Homo sapiens: one gene and its partners. The protein of the gene in region 2 interacts with the protein of the main gene of each other region in a biochemical or structural test. Each region holds a gene or a part of one and is shown on either strand. Other genes may lie near its edges.

The links.
Region 1: the proteins of MTA1 (region 2) and ERCC6 form a complex in vitro, tested with the Homo sapiens proteins (one large-scale study listed by BioGRID).
Region 3: the proteins of MTA1 (region 2) and ZFPM1 are reported together in a solved structure, tested with the Homo sapiens proteins (one study listed by BioGRID).

Annotation. Positions count from the first base shown.
Region 1 is NC_000010.11:49,465,996-49,469,643, reverse strand, and holds part of ERCC6 (DNA excision repair protein ERCC-6), read left to right. Parts: intron 1-3,648. UniProt on the Homo sapiens protein: Involved in repair of DNA damage following UV irradiation, acting either in the absence of ERCC6 or synergistically with ERCC6. Involved in the regulation of gene expression.
Region 2 is NC_000014.9:105,426,260-105,429,907, forward strand, and holds part of MTA1 (metastasis-associated protein MTA1), read left to right. Parts: intron 1-3,648. UniProt on the Homo sapiens protein: Transcriptional coregulator which can act as both a transcriptional corepressor and coactivator. Acts as a component of the histone deacetylase NuRD complex which participates in the remodeling of chromatin.
Region 3 is NC_000016.10:88,451,770-88,455,517, forward strand, and holds the start of ZFPM1 (zinc finger protein ZFPM1), read left to right. Parts: upstream 1-1,510; 5' UTR 1,511-1,869; coding exon 1,870-1,909; intron 1,910-3,748. UniProt on the Homo sapiens protein: Transcription regulator that plays an essential role in erythroid and megakaryocytic cell differentiation. Essential cofactor that acts via the formation of a heterodimer with transcription factors of the GATA family GATA1, GATA2 and GATA3.

The DNA of each region.
Region 1 (3,648 bases), on a different chromosome or scaffold from region 2:
AGTTACCAAAGATTGCTGCTTATGGTACTCAGTTTAAGAAGGCAGGTTTATGTGTAGCATTTCAGAAAGACTTTTATTTAGCATGGTTAATTTTTTTGTTAATTTCATATTTTGAAGTAATTTCAAACTTAAATCAGTTGGGTCTCAAAAAAAAATCAGTTGGAATAATACGAAGAACTCTCCTATATCCTTTATCTAAGTTATTAACATTTTTCAGCTTTTGCTTTATCATTCACACACACACCCATCTATGCATACATTTTTTTTTTGGTAGGAATGCCACAGAGGTGATACCGTATCTTACTCAGTGCATCTATCAGGAGACACATGCTGGTTTGACCTATTACAAGTTGATTTTTAAGATCACTTGGTTAAGGTGGAGTCTGCCAGGTTTCTCAATGCTAAGGTTAATATTTTTACCTTTGTAATTAATTTGTGCTTTCAAGGAATATGCTTTGAGACTGTGTAAATATCCTGTTTCTCATCAAACTTTTATCCACTAGTTTTAATATCTATTGATGATTCTTTCCTCAGTCAGTTATTACTACAATGGTTGCCAAATGGTGATTAACATTCTATTGTAAGGAAGGTTTTCCTTCTCTCTTATTTATTTATTAATTTATTTTTAGATCAGTGTGGACTAATGGATTCTTTTTTTTTCCATGACTGTAATCCATTAGTAGGGGTATTATGATGCTCGTATTGTCTTAGATTTGCCTCATGGGTGGGAGCTCCTTCAAGCTGGCTCCTTTGTCCCTCTGGTATGTCCCCACCATTCTTTGAGCACCTCCTTTCTTCTTGGCATACTAATATATGCTGAGCTCAATTTGTATTCTGTGCCAGCCCTGGAATCAGCCATTTCTTCAAGGAACCCTGGAGAATGGTATTTAGGAACTAGGATCCGGGTTCTCAGAGTGTTCATTGCTGCTATTATGTCATTGCTTTCGTAGCCAATAGTATCAGGAAATAGATGTATGTATGTGTGTGTATGTGTTTGTTGTGTACATACATATACACATACATACGTGCATATATATGCACAACAAATTGCACAGATACACCTGTCTCTATGTCTGTGAAAACCATGAATTTGGCTTCCAGCAAAGGCAGATTAACATTTACCCTTCCATGTGAAACAATGAAAACAATGACAAAACATATGAAGCAATGGTTTTCAGACACCAAAGGGCAGTGATCTCTTGAGAGATGGGAAACAAATGAACTGAGCTCTCCAGTTGCCCTGCCCTACTGCCTTGAGAGAATTTTCGTGCTGTAACAGAAAGAGGGAGAACCCAGATGGGAGTCCAGGCAGACCCTCTGTTGAAAAGGCAGAGCTGAGCATCAGGGGAGGCCAGGGTGGCTGGCATTCACATGCAAGAGACGATAGCGGAGACAGCTCTGCACAGGGAGAGAACCCCACAGGTCTGCAGAGTCTCCACTGGCACTCAGCTGAATACTGACCAGCACATTGTGCAAGAAAACTACTTAAGGTCAGTGAAAAGGCCTTTCCTCTTTAACTTTTCGAATTAGAGGAAACATGTCTGGTGCTCACCCATGGCCAGGGATAGTGCCTGTTCCCACCAGCTAAGACTGGAAAAATATTTCATGGGGCATTGGGTATGATACAGAGTAGGGGGTCTTGCCTCTGTAGTAGGGAATGATCAGCCTTAGAGTGAGCACTGCTTCAGCCCTACCTGAGTGTTTACAGGAATATACAAATACCCAACATCCAACAAGATGAAATTCACAATGTCTGGAACCCAATAAAAAATTACTGGCTGGGTGTGGTGGCTCAGCCTGTAATCCCAGTGCTTTGAGAGGCTGAGGTGGGTTGATTGCTTGAGCCTAGGAGTTCAAAACCAGCCTGGGCAACATAGTGAGATCCTATCTCTACAAAAAATAAAAAAAAAAATAGCCGGGTGTGGTAGCATACACCTGTGGTCCCAGCTACTTGCGAGGCTGAGCTGGGAGGATTGCTCGAGCCTGGGAGGTTGAGGCTGTGGTGAGCTGTGATCATGCCACTGCACTCCAGCCTGGGCAGCAGAGCGAGACCCCATGTCAAAAAATAATAAAATGTATAACCCAATTTTTTAAATGGACAAATAATTTGAACAGACTTCACCAAGAAAGATATGTAGATGGCAAATAAATATATGAAACTTGTTAATATTATTAGTTATTAGGGAAATGCCAATTAGAACCATAACGAGATACCACTATACACCCTCTAGAATGGCTAAAATGAAAGAAGACTGACCATACTAAGTGTTGGTAAAGATGTGAAGCAGTTGGGTCTCATACACGCCTGGTGGGAATGTAAAATGGCACAATCACTTTGGAAAACAGTTTGGCAGTTGCATGCGCTTTCCTTGTGATATAGCTTTTTCAGTCCTGGGTGTGTATTTGCCCAAGAGAAATGGAAAAATATGTCCATACGAAGGCTTGTACATGAATATTCGTAGCAGCTTTATTAGTAATAGCCAAAAATGTAGAAATCAAATGTCTACCAACAAGTAAATAGTTAAACTAACCATGGCATATCCATATGATCAAATACTAGTCGACAGGTGGGGCTTGGCTCACGCCTGTAATCCCAGCACTTTGGGAGGCCGAGGTGGGTGAATCACCTGAGGTCAGGAGTTCGAGACCAACCTGGACAACATGGTGAAACTCCATCTCTACAAAAATACAAAAATTAGGCATGATGGTGGGTGTCTGGAATCCCAGCTACTTGGGAAGCTGAGCGGGAGAATCGCTTGAACCTGGGAAGTGGAGGTTGCAGTGAGCCGAGATCACACCATTGTACTCCTGCCTGTGCGACAGAGCAAGACTCCGTCTCAAAAAATATATATACTAATCAACAATAAAAGGAAGTAGAGTATTGATACATGCTACAGCATGGATGACTTTCGGACTAGTAAGATTAGTACATACTCTGATGCCGTTTGCATAAAATTCTAGAAAACACACAGTCATGACAGAAATTGGATTGGTTGTCTGGGCATGGGGTATTTGACGGTGGGATTACAAAGGGACATGAGTTTTGCAGGTGACGGCTATGTTCATTGTCTTGATTGTAGTGATAGTTTCATGGTATGTACATAATGTCACAACTTACCAAATACTGTACTTTAGCAGTTATTGCATATCAGTTACACTCTAATAAGCTCCAAAAAGCAAAATAAGATGAGGGAATACTGTTGTCTCCAATTTCATTTCAGCACCCTAGGGCCCTTTCCATGTTTGTAGCTTCCTTCTTCAAGACCTTCATTCACAACGTACTGAGTTACTTGTCAATCCTAGGATACATGGTAGCTTTTTACAATTTCTGACCTGAACTATGGCAAGAAACAGTTATACTAACTAGAATTCAATATTTGTTTTTATTTATACTAACTAAAGTTCAATATTTGTTTTTATTTCTTTTTGTCTTTAGTCTAAGTTTTTGGTCAAAACACTACTTGAGTCAAAAATAACTTAGTTCTTTTTTCTCACCCTTCATCATATTTTCAGTGTGTGCTATCAGTTTAAAATACAGTTAGGTTAATTTATTTGTTTGTATTCCACTTTAGGGTTTCCTCCCATCCTTGTTGACTCTATGTTATCTTCTGAGTAGTAACACATTAACATAGTAACAAAAGACAAAAT
Region 2 (3,648 bases):
GCGGCAGCGGCTCCTGGTACCAAGCATACCTTAAAAATGAGCCCATGGATGTTGCAGTGAGCCGAGATCACGCCACTGCACTCCAGCCTGGGTGACAGAGCGAGACTTCGTCTCACAAAAAAAAAAAAAAAAAAAAAGAGCCTCAAGGCCTGTGCAGTTGGTCAGCGGTGGAGTCAGGTATGGGGCACACCTGATTCTGCCCTGGCTCATCCCCTGCCTTCAGAGGACAGCAAGGGCGCAGCGCACGTGGGGGCTGGCCCTGAGGTGTGGCGTTCTCTGGGCTGGGCTAGGGCAGTTCTGAGGGAGGGGCGTGTTCTGTCCCATTCCTCCAGGAGACACAGTGCCTGGGCCATCTGGCCACTTGCATGAGGGAACGTCTGTCTGCATCCCCTGGGGGCCGCTGTCCCCATCCCTTGACTGCCGGATGCACCTCGGATGCTGGGGCTCTGGTCTCCGATCCTTCTTGGACTTTGTGGGGACAGCAACGGAGGAGGATGACCCCAAGGATGGGCCGGGCGCGAGGCTTGCAGCAGTGCCCAGGTTTTGCAGATAAAAATACAGGACACCCCTGCAGCATTTGGGACGTTGTCACATGGAGACCCGGCTCCTGGAGCAGGGGTGCTGGGGGCTTTCCTGACCACTGTTGCTGTTTCTCTTGACTCTGTTCCCAAAAGGGAAAAGACAAAGTTCCTCTCTGTGCTCCCTGGTCTCCTGTCTCTGACCATGGCAGACCTGGCTGTGGGTGAGCTCAGGAGAGTGGGCTGTGCCCTGGAGGGTCCCGGACAGGCAGGGACCACGGGCACCGCCCTGCCGCACAGCTCTTGTTGCTCAATGATCTTGGGGGTTGTGTCTGTTCTCCCCCAATTCTTCTGTGGCCCCATCCCCTATTTGTTAAAACTTACGTGTAACCCCAAAATTCACACTTATGTCACTTTCCCAGTCATTTGCGGGCACGCACAGGCTGCTAAAAGCCCAAGTTGCGTGGTGCTTGGGTGCCTGCTGGGGTGAGCGAGGCACCCTGCCCTCTGCCACTGCTCCCATGTTGGAAGCAAATTGTCCTTTCTCCATCTACTGAGGGCCATGCTTCTTGCATTTGGGGGCTCTTGGTGATTTTGCTTTTTAGATGCCCCTGGGGGAGGTGCCGCAGTGCTGTTGAGTGTCCCTGGACACAGGCAGGCTGGGATGGGTCCCATGGAGAGAACGTGTGTTGGACAGGCTCTGCCCCACGTGAGTTCAGTGTCGGAGAACAATAATAATTATAAAGTTCTTTGACAGAAACGTAAAATAAGGCTGTTGCGTATTGATTGGTTGCTGAAAATGTTGTGACCAGAGGCTCGTAGGAACCTGACCCTGTATTTCCTGTAGGAACAGAGGTACGGTGTTCAGTATTAGTGGTGACTTTATGGAACGTAATTACTGCAAACAATGAGAATTGACTCTGGGTGCGTGTATATTTTTTTAACTTAAAGTAAGGTTTAGGCCGGGCATGGTGGCTCACACCTGTAATCCCAACACTTTGGGAGGCTGAGGTGGGCAGATCACTTGAGCTCAGGAGTTTGAGACCAACCTGACCACACAGCAAAACCCCATCTCTACTAAAAATACAAAAAAAGCCAGGCGTGGTGGTGCGTGCCTGTAATCCTAGCTACTTGGGAGGCCGAGGCATGAGAATCACTTGCGTGCAGGACGCAGAGGTTGCAGTGAGTGGAGATCGCACCACTGTACCCCAGCCTGGGCAACAGAGTGAGACTCTCTCAAAAAAAAAAAAAAAAAAAGTTAGGTTTATTGAGATACACGTTTCACATGGCAAACCCACTTATGTGTAGGGGCCTGTGGTTTTCCACTCATGCACAGCTGTGTGGTCGCTGCAGCTCTTCCACACCTGACATGCTTCTCTTGTGACCTTCTGTAGTCAGCCCCCTCTTCTCCCCCAGCTCCCAGCAACACTGACCTATTTTCTGTTCCTGCCGTTTTGCCTTGTCCAGAATGTGGTAGAAGTGGAATTGCACAGCATGTGGGCTTTTGAGTCTGGCGTCTTTCTTTTTTTTTGAGATAAGGTCTCAGTCTGTCACCCAGGTTGGAGTGCAGTGGTACAGCCATGACTCACTGCAGCCTCCACCTCCCAGGCTCAAGTGATCCTTCCACCTCAGCCTCCTGAACAGCCGGGACCACAGGTGTGCACCACCACACCCAGCTAAGTTTTTCGTTATGTTGTCTAGGCTGGTCTCGAACTCCTGGGCTCAAGCGATCCTCCCACTTCGGACTCCCATAGTGCTGAGGTAACAGGAGTGAGCCACCATGCCCAGCCTTATAGTAATTCTTGAAATCAAGTAGTAGGAATCCTTGAACTTTGTTCCTCATTTTCAAAATTGTTTAGCCTGTTCTGGTTACTTGGCTTTCCCTTACAGAGTTTAGAATTGGCTTGTTAATTTCTACAGAAACCAAAAAGAAGTGTTTCTTTTTTTTTTTTCTTTTTTTGAGACAACATCTTGCTCTGTTGCCCAGGCTGGAGTGCAGTGGTATGATCTTGGCTCACTGTATGTAGCCTCAGTCTCTTGGGCTCAAGTGATCCTCCCCACTTCAGCCTCCCGAGTAGCTAGGACTACAGGCATACGCCACCATGCCTGGCTAGTTTTATTTATTTTTGTAGAGATGGGGTCTCACTATGTTGCCCACACTAGTCTCAAACCCCTGGCCTCAAGTGATCCTCCTGCCTTGACTCCCAAAATGCTGGGATTACAGGCATGAGCCATTGTGCCCAGCCTCACCTTGCACTTTTATGTGGTAGAAATGGCTTCTTTCCTTGAACTTCATGGGCCAACTTCTGCTAGCTTCAGATTTTTCTTCTGCAGCCTCCTCACCTCCCTCAGCCTTCGTAGAACTGAAGGGAGTTAGGGCCTCGCTCAGGCTGGGGCTCTGGCTTCGGGGAATGTGTCCGCTTTGATTTCCCATCCCGGCACTTCAGCTTTCTCTCTATCAGTACTAAGGCCGTTCAGCTGTCTTATCAGGCTTGTGTTCACTGGAGCAGCACTTTTTGTTTTTTGGAGATGAAGTCTTGCTCTGTCGCCCAGGCTGGAGTGCGGTGGCACGATCTCGGCTCGCTGCAACCTCCGCCTCCCGGGTTCAAGCGATTCTCCTGCCTCAGCCTCCCAAGTGGCTGGGACTACAGGCACCCACCACCACACCCGGCTAATTTTTTTTTTTTTTTTTGAGACAGAGTCTCCCTCTGTCACCCAGGCTGGAGTGCAGTGGCACGATCTCGGCTCACTGCAAGCTCCGCCTCCCAGGTTCACGCCATTCTCTTGCCTCAGCCTCCCGAGTAGCTGGGACTACAGGTGCCCGCCACTATGCCCGGCTAATTTTTTGTATTTTTTTAGTAGAGACGGGGTTTCACCATGTTAGCCAGGATGGCCTCAATCTCCTGACCTTGTGATCCACCTGCCTCAGCCTCCCGAAGTGCTGGGATTACAGACGTGAGCCACTGCGCCCGGCCTTTTTTTTTTTTTTTTTTTTTGGTGACCAAGTCTCGCTCTGTCATTCAGGCTGGAGTGCAGTGGTGCGATCTTGGCTCACTGCCACCTCCAGCTCTCGGGTTCAAGTGATTCTCCCACCTCAGCCTCCCGAGTAGCTGGGATTACAGGCACACAC
Region 3 (3,748 bases), on a different chromosome or scaffold from region 2:
GCAGAGAGCAGGAAGGGCTGGAGGACCCGTATGCCCCTGGGCAGCTCTCTTGGCCTCCTGGTCTCAGTGTTCCTGTCTGTCCATGGCAGTGGGGAGGGACGGCGCATATCCAGTGTTGTACCCCTGCCTCTCCTACCCACCCGCCACTCTCCTGTACCAGGCTCTGAGGGTAAGCCCCCACTTCTCCCCTTCCTTGGAGCCAGGGAATAGGTCACAGAAGTTGGCACGAGATGGGGTCTTAGGAGCTCCCAGCAGGCTGGCGGGTGGTGTGACAGTCCTGCTGTGCGATGATCTCATCATCAGGTGGGAGGGGTCCTTCCTGTCTGCCCCTGGGCCCACTGACGCCCGTTTCTTATGAGTACGGGGGATGGGGGAGCAGGTAGCAAGTGTAGACCGAGAACATTAAAAGGAGATGATACAACTCAGCTGGGAGTGGGGGACAGCCCCCCAATGCGTGACCTTGAGCAAGTCCCCGAGCCTCCGTGAAGTGGGGCTCTTGAACACACCCCAGAGGGCAACAGTTCTCCATTTCCAGGCCTGAGCTGACAGCACCGCGCCCACAAACCTCGCTGACCTCTGACTGCTCCGAGAGGGGGCTGTGGCCCGGGCGCTGTGGGCAACTCCTTCGTGGGTCTCCTGCGGGGCGCCCTGGAGAGGCTCGGTGAGGAAAGAGGCCCCAAGTGGCAACGCCCAGGGCTGCCGGCTCCCGCGCCCCCTCCTCGATTTCCAGCCTGGTCTGAGCTCACAGGGGAAGACCCGAGATCCTGCTCTCAGTTGGCGGACCCCACCGCAGTCTGGGACGGAAGCCCCCTCCCTGGCCCGAATCCGCTCCACACCCCAAGTCTGGCCCAAGAGAAACGTGGGCGTCAAGGCCTCGGGCTTCCTGAGCCGGTTGTCACTGCCCCCACCGCGCACGTGGAGCGTGCGGCAGAGCCCAGGGGTCTAGGGAGGGACCAAGGGCTGGGGGCGGAGTTACAGTGCGGGGGCGGAGCCTCGGCGTCTCAGGACCCAACCAGGTCGGGTCAGGTTTGGAGGCGGAGCTGGCGCCGAGAGGCGGGGCGCAGGATGCGGTGCCGCGGGGCAGCAGAACAGAACCGAATAGGTCTCAGACTCCCAGCGCGGCCTGGGGACATGACCTCCGGGCCAAAGAGGAGTGGGGGAGGCTAGAGGTCTCCCCGGGGCGCGGGCGGGGCCGAACCAGGAAGGGGCGGGGCATCGAGCGGGGCGGGGACAGTGCCTTGAAGGCCCAGACGGACAGGGGCGGGGCCGCAGCGCTGGGGTCGGAGCCAGCGCCGTAAAGAGCGAGGCGGGCGGGGGCGCGGTCGCGGCTCTGGGGGCGGAGCCAGAGCAACGAAGAGCCGGGCTGGCGGGGGCGTGGCCGCGGCGCTGGGGGCGGAGCCGGAGAGGTGCAGGGCCCGGCAGGAGGCACGGGGCGGGGCCGGAGCGCCGGGGGCGGGGCGGGAGGTGCGGCGGCCGACGACGCTCAGGCCCGGCCCCGCCCCGTGCCTCCAGCCCGCCAGGAGCGCCCTCGCAGTGGCCGCCTGCTCCGCCGCTCGCCGCCCGCGGGTTCCATTGAGAAAAGCCGAGCGGCCGCGGCGGCGGCGGCGAGTGCGCGGGAGCGGAGGAGCCGGCACCCGCCCGTCGGGCAGTCCGCGCGCCCGCAACGCAGGACCGTGGCCTCTCGGGCCTCCGCGGCAGCTCCAGCGGCTCCGGGGCTGGGCGCGCGGGCTGGGGGCGCGGGCCGGGGCGGCCGCGGAGACCGGGGGCCGGGGGCATGAGCGGCCCCGCGGCCCCGCCGCGCCCCCGCCGCCCGCCGCCGCCCGCCCGGGGCTAGAGGCGGCCGCCGGGAGGGCGCGCGGCGCCGGAGACATGTCCAGGCGGAAACAGAGCAACCCCCGGCAGATCAAGCGTGAGTCAAACTTTGCCCGCGGTCCCCTCCGCGCGCCCGACCCCCGCCGGAGCCCAGCCGCCAGCGCCGCCCCCGCCCGTCCCCGCTCTGCCCTGGGCGCCGGCGACCTTCACCCCGCGCCGCGCCCCCCGCGCTGTGCCAAGCGCGCCGTAATCTAATCTCCGCCGGCGGCCTGGGCCCCCGCGTCTCGGCTTGGGCACCGGGGGGTTCAGCCCAGGAGGGGGCCGCCCGGAGGCCGGGAGGAGGGTGTTTGGGGGCGCGGCCCGGGCAGCTCGGCCCCTCGCGGCCTGCCCCTCCCCCGCATCTGCGAGATGGTGCGGCGATAGGGCGGCCCCGATCTGGGCTCAGATAAAGTTTAAAATATTACATTCTGCAAGTCCCGTCCTGATAAGATCGTTCTGTCGGGACGGGCTGAAATTGTGATCTTATCTCGCGCGGTTGACTCTCCCAGGCTTTGTATCTAGAAGCGAAGAGAGAGACCTGGGAGGCAGAGGGGACACCCGGGGCCGCGGAGATGCCTGGCCAAGTGGCAGGCACCGGCCCGCGCCCACCCCCACCGGTGCCGTCGCAGAGCCGCAGGACAGGGGAGGGGGTAGCGCGCAGCTGCCGCAGCCTAGGCACTTGGCTCCAGCCCCCCAGACACCCCCACCCCGTGCCCTAGCGCTGAAGTCCTGAACCCAGGCCCCGCCAGCCTGGTGACACCTCCTGGACCCTGCAAGTGTCCCAGCCAAGGCGGCATGGGCAACAAATGGTGCCCTCGGATGCCCGCGGGCACCCCCTGGCATCCCAATGGGCTGCTCTGAGTCAGAGAAGGGCCTCCCAGGACGCAGCCCCGGGCCGGGGTCGCCCCTGCACGCCACTAAGTTTCTCGCTGGTCCGGCTCCCTGCCCGGTCAGAGGCTGCTGCCCCGCCGCCACATTGCCAGTGCCCCCGCGATGAGAACTAAGCTGTCGGGGCCACTGTCTGGCCTGGGCCTCTGGGCTGTGCCAGGAGGGAGCAAGAGCACAGGAAGCTACCCTCCCCACCCTATGCCAATAATAACTTTGCGCCTCACAGTTAGGGCCCAGACGCAGGTCTTCCTCCCCGGGGCGCCTCCCCGGAGCCTGACGGGCAGGTCGTCTGAGCCCTGCCAGGAGGCCACGACGGAAACCCGCCCGCTGCCCAGCCGTAGGCGCCCGGGCACTACCTCCTTTGTCCACACGACCACTGCCACCAGGACCCCTTGTGCGGGGCCTGTGGGAGCTTCCCTACTCAGGAGGTCTCCCGAGGCGGGGGTCACAGGCATGAACCGGTTCCCGTAACCCAACTCCCTCAGCGCAAACGGGACCTGTTTTCCGAAAGTCGCCTTCTATCGTGTCAACTCAAGTATTAAAAGCCACCCACAGGTCCCGATCCGCGCTTGTGCTCTGGTTTCTTTTTCCTTCCTTCCCTGAGCGCCTATGTTCGGTTCTGGGGTGTGTGTGTGTGTGTGTGTGTGTGTGTGTGTGTGTGTGTGGTGTTTCACTGTGATGAGAAATGCAGATAGCTCGGACAGGGAGATCGCAGGTTGGAAACCGATCTCCAGCGCTGATAAGGCCGCCAGCGCCAGCGAGAGCCCGTAGCCCAGCCCAGCGGGGCGGGCAGAGCGCGCGCACTTTGGGAACTGGGACCGCGGCGGGTGCACGGTGAGCCACCGCGGCCCATCCTCGTTGCGGCCCGGGACCGGGGCAGAGAAAGGGCCCGGACGAGGAAGGCAGGGCCGCGGACCCTCCCTGTCGCTCGCGGCCCGGGGCGCCTCCTCCCCATGGCAGATCTCAGCACGTTAAGATGCGAAGGCTGATTGTCACCAAGCGGCGGCGC